2 separate regions of the Homo sapiens genome follow, and region 2 is linked to region 1. Evidence: fine-mapped expression QTL. A gene starts in region 1. The other region holds a variant in brackets. All regions are shown on one strand. Distances are between the middles of the regions. Region 1 holds the start of FLVCR2 (FLVCR choline and putative heme transporter 2). Region 2 overlaps FLVCR2 (FLVCR choline and putative heme transporter 2).

Region 1 (2,907 bases):
CTCTGAGTCTGGGTTTTCTTGTCTATAAAATTTAGGCCAGCAATAGTAACTTTATCACAGAATTCTTGTGATGCATAAATGAGCTAATGCATTCAATTTGTTTAGCACTGTACAACAAATGTTAGCTTTTTGCTAGGATAGCCAGCATTCGCGGAATGCTTACTATGTGGCAGGAATTTTCTAAGTGCATTCGTGTATTAATTCATTCAAGTCTCAGAACAACACGGTGAGGTAGGTACTATTATTTCATCATTTCCATTTTACAGATGAAGAAACTGAAGCGCAGAGAGGTGGAGTTCCTTGGTCTACAGTGGCACCTCATTGTAGCTAAGCTGGTGTTTGAACTCAGGGAGAATTTGGGCTCCTTACCAGGATCCCTCGCCAAGGACAGAGGTCAGTGCAACGAGTCGAGGGTTTGCCCTTTGAAATGGGCTAGGACCGGCAGGTGGCAGACTAGGGCTGCTTGAGTTCAAAGACCGCTTCCAAGACCAAGCCCGGAGCCAGCTCTGTGCTAAGCGTTCCATCACACAACCGCGGACAGCTTCTTCGGCTTCTTCAAACTCTCCTTTCCCTCCCCCGCACCCTAGGGTCTTCGCCCAGAATCCATCAGGAAAAATAGCCCCACATAACAGGTTCAAATCTAACCTCCCCAAGACAAAACCACGTCCGCAGGGAAAGAAGCGAGTAAAGCGAGTTTTCTGTAACTCCCCTTTAACCCAGGAGCGCAACCAGCCCGGGAAATCTACAAATCTCTCTTTAGTTCAGCAAAGGGCTGGGAGCCTAAGCCAAGGGGGAGAAAGTTGGGGAATCCCTCTTGAATTCCCCAGAACACTTAGGTGGCGCCGGGCTTTGGTGCACGCGCGCAGGGCATGCGGACAGGCACCGGAGAGGCTCTATTTTGGGCATTACTTCGGGAAGGCGGATCTTCTTGCAGGGTCCGCTGATAGCGGGTGGCAAATGAATATGAGGGGCAGTGCAAAGGGTGGGGGTTAACCGGGCGGTTTCCATGGCGCCCGGGGCGTGGGGGAGGAATGCATCCCGCAAGCTGTGGCGAAACAACTGCTCTGCCCGGAGGACCGGGCTCGAGAAGGCAAGAGACACTGGGTCGGGGGTGGAGTGGTGGCGGGGGGGTTGGGGGCGGAAGAAGCCAGGCAGGACGGGGGCGGGGCGGTCACGTGTGCCCGACTGGGCGAGGCCCCAAGCTGGCCCGGGAGAGGACTCTGCGGGCGAAGTGGCTGCGCAAGGAGAGAACTTTTCCTGCACAAGGAACGCCTCGTGGGGAGACCCAAGGCAGGAGCGGTCCGGAGCCGGCTGCGGCGTGTGCGGCCGGCCTTGGGACAGCGATCGCCGCGGGTGGCAACAGAGAGCCCCAAGCAAAAGTGGGAGCAGGAGCTTGGAGGTGAGCACAGGAAGCCCCACTTGAGGCTTTTACGCAGCCTCTAGTCTCTGTTTCTTCTGGAATAGGCAAGTGTCCTTTCAACTCTAAGAGACCAGCAGAGGCCACTGTCCCTTAAGACTGCCGGAGTCCTCACCACTTCTCCAGGATTCCAGAGGAGACTGTGGCGATGGTGAATGAAGGTCCCAACCAGGAAGAGAGCGATGACACCCCTGTGCCGGAGTCCGCACTCCAAGCGGACCCCAGCGTCTCGGTCCATCCCAGCGTCTCGGTCCATCCCAGCGTCTCCATCAACCCCAGCGTCTCTGTCCACCCCAGCAGTTCGGCCCACCCCAGTGCCTTAGCCCAACCCAGTGGCTTGGCTCACCCCAGTAGCTCGGGCCCTGAGGACCTCAGCGTGATCAAGGTGAGCAGGCGCCGTTGGGCCGTGGTCCTGGTGTTTAGCTGCTACTCCATGTGCAACTCCTTTCAGTGGATCCAGTACGGCTCCATCAATAACATCTTCATGCACTTCTACGGTGTCAGTGCCTTTGCCATTGACTGGCTGTCCATGTGCTACATGCTGACTTACATCCCTCTGCTCCTGCCAGTGGCTTGGCTGCTGGAGAAGTTCGGCCTGCGCACCATTGCTCTCACTGGCTCGGCTCTCAACTGCCTGGGGGCCTGGGTGAAGCTGGGCAGCCTGAAGCCGCATCTCTTTCCGGTCACCGTGGTGGGCCAGCTCATCTGCTCTGTGGCCCAGGTTTTCATCCTGGGCATGCCCTCCCGCATCGCTTCCGTCTGGTTCGGGGCTAATGAGGTTTCAACAGCCTGCTCCGTGGCTGTCTTTGGCAATCAGGTAGGTAGAACAGTTTGTGAATGTTCCCAGGGGCGTGTGTTAGATTGCACCTAACTATTGGGTGTGGTAGGCTATAATTTGCTGATTGTCCAACAGTGTTTGTGACTCTGGGTGACAGTAACTGGGTGTGACAGGCAGTGATTGTGATGCTGTAAGAGAGGCGGGAAACAAAAGCAGGGGGACCTGCTCTTTCATCCACAGTTGCTCTTGCCCCAGCCAAAAGCATGCTTCTAGAACATACTATACCTTCGCTGTGTCGTTCTCGAACCTGTGTCAGTCCACCAACTTAGACCTGTAATTTCAGGAATGCTCTTCTGTCTGGCAGCAGCCCCTGGGCATCAGACTATTCTGGTGTCATCAGAACTTGGCAGTGCTTTCAGTTGGACCAACCAGCTTTCCTAGAGTGCAGTATCTCCTCTACTGCATAGAATTGCAAAGCCATGCCTGGTGGTGTTTGGCACTGCTTTTACCTTGTTTTACACACAGCTGAAGCCAGGACAGTGGGAGCAGTGCTTTGTGCCAAACTCCTTGCCTGGGATTTAGAGCCAAGTCCAGCAGGATGGAGTAGAAATCTCACTCTGAGTTTCCATGGCCTAGAAAGGGTAGTTCATGTCTTAATCTTTTTCTCTTTCTTTCTTATTGGAAGGAGAAGCTCAAATTCTTTGCATCTCAA
Region 2 (2,907 bases), 36 kb after region 1:
CATAGTAACACTTTCTCCCAAGTTGTCTGTGCAGCTGAAGTTTTCCTCAGCTGCCCTACTCTGTGAACTTAACTTCAGATTAATCTTTAGGCCATAAAATCATTGGTAGTGTGCATAGAGGTATGTAGATATACACATTTACCTAATAACTGTATCATGTAAAACATCCTTTGGCAAGGACAGCATCATACTGAATGCTTTAAAATTGCTCATTTGGGTTGATGGGCTTACAGTAATCCAATGTGTGAAAGTCTAGATTGAACCTCAATGTATCTTTTATGAGGCTCTTATTTTAAAAGGATCCTCAACCATGCTTTTTAAAGTATCAAACTTTCTCTGAGAACCTTGTCTAGACTTAAATTTCCAACCACATCTTTCCACAGTTCTGGGCTCACATGACAAATGTGCAGTGGCAATGGTGCTTTCCTGACATGCCAGTTAACTGCAGCTCATTCTTTCAACAACCATGTATTGAGTAAGCGCCAGACTAGCAAGTATCAGGAAAATGACTGACAACCCAAAGATTAGAGGAAGTTAGAGCAAGGCAATCACGCCTAGTGAGGATCGTCAAGGAAAGCTCTGTGAGAGAATTCACATGGTGATGGGCTCTGAAAGATTAAAAAGGGGATAACTTGGGATAAAGGTATAGACGAGATGATGGGAAGGTTGGAATCATGACTTGTTCAATCTGGCTGGAATATAGGGGATTTATAGGGATACAGAAGAGAAGGGTCTGGAAAGGAAGGTTGAAACTAGCAAAGACAGCTGTATTAGTCTGTTTTCACGCTGTGATAAAGAACTGCTTGAAACTGGGTAATTTATAAAGAAAAGAGGTTTAATTGACTCACTGCTCCAAATGGCTAGGGAGGCCTCAGGAAACTTACAATCATGGTGGAAGGGGAAACAGGCACATCTTACATGGTGGTAGGCAAGAGAGCGAGAGAGAGAGCGTCTGAAGGAGGAACTGTCAAACATTTTTCTAACCATCAGGTCTTGTGAGAACTCACTACCATGAGAATACCATGGGAGAAACTGCCCCCATGATCCAGTCACCTCCCACCAGGCCCCTTCCTTGGCACATGGGGATTACAATTCGAGATGAGATTTTGGTGGGGACACAGAGCCAAACCAAATCAATGGCTAAGAACAGTAGCTGAGGGGTTTGGACCTGCTTCCTTCCTCTGAGAGGGCTGACACCTTGAAGTTCTTTAAGCAGGGACGGTGGGGTCAATGCAACGCCAAGGACCATGAATGTGAGTACATCATGCAGGTCGGGCAGAGGAGAGATCACAGTTGCCTGGGAGAAAGGCAGAAAGGTCCGAAGTGGGACAGGGCAGATTCAAAGAGGACTTTGCAGAAGGGTTTGGGAGGATCTGAGACGAAGTGCATATAAGAGGGCAGAGTCAAAGATGACTAAGATAATTGAGGAAGGACACGCAGATGGAGCCAGAGAAGGAAGTGAAGCAGAACCAGGGTAGGATGATGGTTTGTATGACTTCCCCAAATAAACCAAGTGCATCTTGGGAGTCCCAGTGGCCTCTGCTGCCTGTCACCTCTGCTGTGTGAGAGTGTGTGGGAAAGGGCCAACCCTGCAGACAGGGAGTGAGCCTCAGCCC[G/A]ATGAGCTAGGTGGTATTTTCTTCCTCTTGTGGATTAGGAAACACACAGAGAGGTCAATTAACTTGCCAAGCTCTAGTAACTGGTAGGGCCGAGATTTGAATTGAGATCTTTCTGACCCCTGACCCTGAGCCCTTAAGCACTATATTAGTATGATGATGTCTCTGAGGAATGTTGAAGCAGAAAGGAGAAGTGGGAGATTCATTTAAAAAAGCATAAGGCCGGCTGGGCGTCATGGCTCATGCCTATAATCCCAGCATTTTGGGAGGCCGAGGCGGGCGGATCACAAGGTCAGGAGATTGAGACCATCCTGGCTAACACATGAAACCCTGTCTCTACTAAAAATACAAAAAAAAAAAAAAATTAGCCAGATGTGGTGGCGGGAACCTGTAATCCCAGCTACTCGGGAAGCTGAGGCAGGAGAATGGCATGAACCCGGGAGATGGAGCTTGCAGTGAGCCGAGATCGTGCCACTGCACTCCAGCCTGGGTGACAGAGTGAGACTCCATCTCAAAAAAAAAAAAAAAAAAAAAATAGCGTAAGTCCAGTTATGGTGGCTCATACCTGTAATCTCAATATTTTGGGAAGCTGAGATGGGAAGACCACTTGAGACCAGCCTAGGCAACATAGTGAGAGACCCCAATTCCACAAAAAATTAAAAAATCAGCCAGGCATGGTGTCATGATCCTGTAGTTCCAGCTACTTGGGAGGCTGAGGCAGGAGAATTGCTTGAACCCAGGAGGCGGAGGTTGCAGTGAGCCAAGATTGCGCCACTGCACTCCAGCCTGGCGACAGAGTGAGACTCTGTCTCAAAAAAAAAAAATTTTTTTTAATTTAAAAAATAAAAATAGCATAGCATGGGCATGAGGCAAGCCCCAGATTAGGTCATAAAGGGACCAAATTTGATGGAAGCCTTCAGCCTCAGGGACTCTGGTGCAAAGAAAGCAGCTGGCTCAATAAAGGGATACATACATATATATATTTTTTAATTGATACATGGCATTTTACATGTTTATGGAGTATGGACTTTTTTGACTCAGCACTAGGAAGATAGCTCCTGAGAGCTCTGAAATCTAAGGGAACATGTCCAGCCATACCCAGTGATTATGCCCAGGGGAGAGGAATGAGCCAATTGGTTTGAGCAAATTGGGGCCCAGCCCTAGGGGTGAGGGTGGGCTTGCCTTTGTCTGAATAGCACAGCACGTTGGGAGAGGAATGAGTTTCAGTAGGTGAGAACCTGTTTGTGGAGGTTGTTGTCTCCTAACAGGAGCAGGATCCACCTTGCCAGTGGCT

Evidence for each region.
Region 2: its variant is fine-mapped to the expression of FLVCR2 in whole blood (TOPMed, PIP above 0.99).

Annotation. Positions count from the first base shown.
Region 1 is chr14:75,577,408-75,580,314 of GRCh38, forward strand. It overlaps FLVCR2 (FLVCR choline and putative heme transporter 2), which reads left to right and starts at 1,213. Exons shown (of 10, transcript NM_017791.3): 1 at 1,213-2,234. The coding sequence starts at 1,566. It overlaps FLVCR2-AS1 (FLVCR2 antisense RNA 1), which reads right to left and starts at 2,181. Exons shown (of 3, transcript NR_110552.1): 1 at 370-2,181. RefSeq lists an enhancer at 319-378 and a silencer at 1,089-1,158.
Region 2 is chr14:75,613,901-75,616,807 of GRCh38, forward strand. All of the region lies in intron 1 of FLVCR2 (FLVCR choline and putative heme transporter 2), which reads left to right. Among named protein-coding and RNA genes, the nearest start is that of FLVCR2-AS1, 36 kb to the left of the region's middle. The variant G/A (reference allele first, on the strand shown) is at 1,617.